2 separate regions of the Homo sapiens genome follow, and region 2 is linked to region 1. The links come from fine-mapping of genetic effects on gene expression. A gene starts in region 1. The other region holds a variant in brackets. All regions are shown on one strand. Distances are between the middles of the regions.

Region 1 (2,915 bases):
TAAATAAATAGTTGGCTGTACTATATTATTTAGGGAATAATCATGGGGGGGTAGTCTGTAGATGTTCAGTACAAATGCAGTTTTTTTCTTGAATATCTTTTACTCCAGGTTGGTTGAATCCACAGTGTATGCGGCACCCACAGATATGGAGAGGCAACTGTATAGTGTGTGTAGTCAATAATGCTGGTACAGAGATTATGGCCTGTAGATGCAGGGCTCCAGTCTGTTGGGGTAGGCAAGGACCAAATCAGAAAGGGCTATTTCATCATGCTAGCTTTCCATGAAGGGAAAGGGAACCCGCTGAAAAACTTTCTGCCAGTAGAAGCATCATTCTAGTATAAACGTTGAAAGGTGATCTGAAGGGAAATGAAACTAGTGATTGCCCAGAAGGAGGAAAAGAATAATCCCTGACTAAATTTATAAAGCCCTTACTCCCCGCTAAGCAGTTTCCTTCAATCATCTCATTTAATCACTAAAATGAGCAATAGTTATCCCCACTTTATAGATGATATCCACAGGGCTTGCTCCCTCACCTCCTGCAGGTCTTCAGGCAAGTATAAGTGCCTCGCACTTTCCTATTCCCCTTGCTTTATTTTTCTCCTGGTTGCTCAACTCAATTTAACATCTGTTTCGCTTTTGAAATCTTGTTTAAAGATTCTCTCCCACACTAGAATGATAAGTCCCTAGGAATAATTTAATTTGTATTTCAGTTCTGTATCCCCAGTGCCCAGGACACAGTCAACCCTCAGTAAGTACATAAATGAATACATTTTTAAAAATGAGGAAATCGGGTCCCATAGAGATTAAGTAACTTGTCCTTGATCGTACAAGTAATAAGTGGCAGAATTCTGATTTAACAACCCACATTCTTAAACCACTAAGTGGTTACACCAGAGTTGTAATATTGTAGGCAAGAGGCAAGTACCCTCGGACTGCGGTAGTGGGGAAGCGGGGTGATAGGTCTGCCTCGAATTGGTGATGACTGGATGTGGAAGGGCGCTGAAAGGGCTCAATCTAGCATGACTTTGGTTTCTACATTTGGCTTATGGGTAAACAGGAGAGCAATTCTTCAGGAAAAAGAATACAAAGGACTCCAGGTTTGGGCAAAACGATAAGAGGAGGACGTGTCTTAATCCACGATCCTTTTTAACTCTTTTACTATTTCCCTTAGATTACTAAAACATGTTGTTAATTTGAATATATGTGAAGCCAGTAAACCCAAACTGATCCCTTCGTCTTCAGTCTGAGGCCAGTGGGGGATAGGGGTGGGGATGGGGACGGGGATGGGGGTGGGGACGGAGAGGCAGACCAGAATAGGGTCAGCTCTTTTTTTTTTTTTAAGTTAGTCCAAACTTACCAAGAGTAGAAATAAGTCCCCAGCAGTGCTTAACTCTGAGGTAATTTTTAAGGCAGATGCTAAAACTGGAGAATACACCGTACCCTTGTGGAGTCAGGTAGTATTCGTAGTTTTAGATTATCCTGACGGTGTTAGTCACTTGTAGAAGTGACAATGTGCAACAGGCCACTGACACCCAATCCCTGGATGGCCAGGAGGGCAGGAGGGCACCCGGCCGCGGCCTCAGGCTGCTGAGCAGGCGCAGGAAGCTCGCGCCTCAAACGACTCCCAAACCCGGGCCCGGCGCGAAGCAGGGAAGCGCCGCTCACATTCCTGCACGCTCGCCCGGCCGCGGGCCAGCGGCCTCCGGTCCCCAGGTGGCGCTGTGGGCTCGCGGAGGCGGCCGCGGCACCAGGGAGCGTCGTCTCCCTGGTGCGCATGCTCGCCCCCGCTGCGGGCTAGCTGTTGTGTTTTTTTTTTTCCCCCGGGCGGCCCGGCGGCTGCGTACTGGCTGTGGGATGGGAAGTGAAGCCCCAGCGAGCGGCTGCAGCGGGGCCGTGAGGAGCAGCCAGCGGGAGGCGGCGGCGAGTCGGTGAGCAGCTGGGAAGAGCAGAACCGGGGCGGAGCACCTGCAGGCGCGGGCGGCGGCCCCACCATGGCGATTCGCAAGAAAAGCACCAAGAGCCCCCCAGTGCTGAGCCACGAATTCGTCCTGCAGAATCACGCGGACATCGTCTCCTGTGTGGCGATGGTCTTCCTGCTGGGGCTCATGTTTGAGGTGAGCCCGCCCCGAGTCCCAACCGCCTGCCCCGCCACCTCCAGCCCGGGCCCGGGCTCCAGATGCCAGCCCCGGCTTCTCCGCCCAGGACGCGGGGGGCTCGGGCCCGGGGTGGGTGCAGACCCCCAGTCCCTGAGGTGCAGGCCTTCCCTGCCCTGCCCCACGTCGGCGGCAGCTCCCCGGCGGCCGGCCCGGAGATGCAAAGTCCCGGTGGGCCTCATCGCGGCCCGCAGGGGGTGGGGACCGCCGCGTCGCCCCCTTCCTGACCCGCCGCCGCCCCCTCCCGCAGGCTGCGCGGCGCAGTTCCTGGTTCCCGCGAAGGGTTACGTGGCAGCCGGCGAGGGGCCTGCGGGCGGGGGCGGCCCCTGCGCTGCCGAGCTGGCTCGGGGCGGGTGGGCGGACTTGGGGGGACTGCCAGCCTCGGCCGCGGTGAGCGTCAGCCCCGCGAGGGCCGGGGAAGGCCGAGGCCCGGCCCCCGGGTCTGAGGAGTGCCGGCCTGGAGACCACAGGCCCCGAGTGACAGGGGAGCCCCCGGTAGCTCCGAGATTGGGGTGAGCGAGAAACCGGAGTCAGGCATCTGCTTTCGACTTGAAGGGCGGTGGCCGCCGGGCACCGGCGCAGTGGAGGCGCGCCAGATTGTTTTCATTTTTGTCTTTTAAACTGATATTATTACCAGTTAACGAACTTTTTGCCCTGACGCTTTAAAGAAACAAGGTCTGATGGATAAATCGAGGTTCTGAACAGCGGTGCCAAGGAATCGAGTAATTTTGTTTCTTGAAGTAGGAGAGGATGGGAATGTCA
Region 2 (2,915 bases), 36 kb before region 1:
ATGGCCAGTGATGATGAGCATTTTTTCTTGTGTCTTTTGGCTGCATAAATGTCTTCTTTTGAGAGTGTCTGTTCATATCCTTTGCCCACTTTTGATGGGGTTGTTTTTTTCTTGTAAATTTGTTGGAGTTCATTGTAGATTCTGGATATTAGCCCTTTGTCAGATGAGTAGATTGCAAAAATTTTCTCCCATTCTGTAGGTTGCCTGTTCACTCTGATGGTAGTTTCTTTTGCTGTGCAGAAGCTCTTAACCACAATGAGATACCATCTCACACCAGTTAGAATGGCGATCATTAAAAAGTCAGGAAACAACAGGTGCTGGAGAGGATGTGGAGAAATAGGAACACTTTTACACTGTTGCTGGGACTGTAAACTAGTTCAACCATTGTGGAAGTCAGTGTGGCGATTCCTCAGGGATCTAGAACTAGAAATACCATTTGACCCAGCAGTCCCATTACTGGGTATATACTCAAAGGATTATAAATCATGCTGCTATAAAGACACATGCACATGTATGTTTATCACGGCACTATTCACAATAGCAAAGACGTGGAACCAACCCAAACGTCCAACAATGATAGACTGGATTAAGAAAATGTGGCACATATACACCATGGAATACTATGCAGCCATAAAAAATGATGAGTTCATGTCCTTTGTAGGGACATGGATGAAGCTGGAAACCATCATTCTCAGCAAACTATCGCAAGGACAAAACACCAAACACCACATGTTCTCACTCATAGGTGGGAATTGAACAGTGAGAACACATGGACACAGGAAGGGGAACATCACACACCGGGGCCTATTGTGGGGTGGGGGGAGGGGGAGGGATAGCATTTGGAGATATACCTAATGTTAAATGACGAGTTACTGGGTGCAGCACACCAACATGGCGCATGTATACATACGTAACTAACCTGCACGTTGTGCACATGTACCCTAAAACTTAAAGTATAATTTAAAAAAAAAAAAGAGTCTTTTTCTGACCACCTTCTGCATGTTAAGAAAGTTTCTTTTAAGCTTTTAGATAATAACTACTAAAATAAATTTACCATTTATTAAGCATGCAATTTTGTGCCATCTGCTATGCTAAGCACTTAAATACTTGTCTTTGAAAAGTATATACTGATGCCAGCCTAGGCAACATAAAGAGACCTTGTCTTTACAAAAAAATAAAAATAAATTAGCCAAGCGTGGTGGCACATACCTGTGCTCCCAACTAGTCGGGAGGCTGAAGTTGGAGAATTGCTTGAGCCCAGGAGGTTGAGGCTGCAGTGAGCCAGGAACATGCCACCACGCTTCAGCCTGGGTGAGAACAGCTTGGAAAACATAACAAGACCTTGATATATCTCAAAAATAAATAAACATATATGTATATATGTGTATATGTGTGTGTGTGTGTATATATATATA[T/A]AAAATGATGTAAACATATAATGATGTAGGAAAATACAATATAGTAAGTTAAGATTTCAAAAATCAGGTATTAAAACAATATCAGTTTTGTTTTTAAAATATATAAATATGCATAGAAAATCAAAAAGTATATATTCTGTAATAATAAAAGCTCTCCCTCTGAGGAATAGAAATGATTGTTGATGTTCATTTCTTTTAAACACTTTACTTTTCTATTTTCCAAATTTGTTATAATCAGTGCTTATTATTTATAAAGTAAGAAAAATGGTAGGAGGCCAGATGAGGTGGCTAATGCCTGTAATCCCAGCACTTTGGGAGGCCGAGGTGGTAGGATTGCTTGAGTCTAAGAGTTCAAGACCAGCCTGGTCAATATTGTGAGATCCTGTCTCTACAAAAAATAAAAATAAAAATAAATTAGCCAGGCTTGGTGGCCCACACCTGTGGTTCCAGCTACTCAGGAGGCTGAGGTGGGAGGGTCACTTGGGCCCAGAAGATTGAGCCTGCAGTGACCTGTGATCCTGCCTCTGCACTGCAGCCTGGGCAACAGAGTGAGACCCTGTCTCAAAAAAAGAAAAGAAAAAGGGTGGGAAAAGTATTAAATTTTACTTCAGAGTGAGAATCTTGGTTTAGTTAAAGGAGAGAATTTTCTAATGATAATTTTCAGTGGGTTCAAGAAAAGAAAAAGCAGCTTTTTAACTCATCTGTTTATTTGTGTCTAAAGATAAGGATACAGAATAATTTACTTCTCAAAATTTCTTCTAAGCTCGAGTTCATAATTGTTATTATTCCTTATTTCTTCTTTCAACCAGAGTTCTATATACCCCTGGCCACACTGATGATCACATGGCTCTACTCTTAGAAGAGGAAAATGCTATCTTTTCTGGAGATTGCATCCTAGGGGAAGGAACAACGGTATTTGAAGACCTCTATGATTATATGAACTCTTTAAAAGAGTTATTGAAAATCAAAGCTGATATTATATATCCAGGTGGGTAATTTTTAAATTTTTTTATATTTTTATGTTTTTAAATAGAGACAAGGTCTTGCTATGTTTTCCAGGCTGTTCTCAAACTCCTGACCTCAAGCAGTCCTCCCACCTCAACCTCCCAAAGCGCTGGGTATACAGGCATGCCAAAGTGGGTAGTTTTTCAAACCTAGCAAACCATTTGTGTCAAATGATGAGGAAGGTTCATTTTGGCTTGTCTCTGTATGTATTTGGCCTTGAAGAGATAACATATAAGGCCAGGCTCAGTGGCTCACACCTGTAATCCCAGCACTTTGGGATGCCAAGGTGGGCAGATCATGAGGTCAGGAGTTCAAGACCAGCCTGGCCAACATGGTGAAACCCCATCTCTACTAAAAATAAAAAAATTAGCTGAGTGTGGTGGCGCACACTTGTAATCCCAGCTACTTGGGAGGCTGAGACAGGAGAATCGCTTGAACCTGGGAGGTGGAAGTTGCAGTCAGCAGAGATTGCACCACTGCATGCCAGCCTGGGTG

Evidence for each region. PIP is the estimated chance that this variant, and not a neighbour inherited with it, causes the effect.
Region 2: its variant is the best candidate, but not a certain one, in a credible set for the expression of TRAM1 in whole blood (INTERVAL, PIP 0.52).

The regions. Positions count from the first base shown.
Region 1 is chr8:70,607,276-70,610,190 of GRCh38, reverse strand. TRAM1 (translocation associated membrane protein 1) reads left to right here and starts at 1,775. Exons shown (of 11, transcript NM_014294.6): 1 at 1,775-2,114. The coding sequence starts at 1,992. LACTB2-AS1 (LACTB2 antisense RNA 1) reads right to left here and starts at 1,614. Exons shown (of 4, transcript NR_038881.1): 1 at 1,358-1,614. RefSeq lists silencers at 1,609-1,778, 1,859-1,908, 1,969-2,028, 2,079-2,258, 2,279-2,728.
Region 2 is chr8:70,643,553-70,646,467 of GRCh38, reverse strand. It overlaps LACTB2 (lactamase beta 2), which reads left to right. Exons shown (of 7, transcript NM_016027.3): 4 at 2,225-2,403. All of the region lies in intron 1 of LACTB2-AS1 (LACTB2 antisense RNA 1), which reads right to left. Among named protein-coding and RNA genes, the nearest start is that of LACTB2, 24 kb to the left of the region's middle. The variant T/A (reference allele first, on the strand shown) is at 1,416.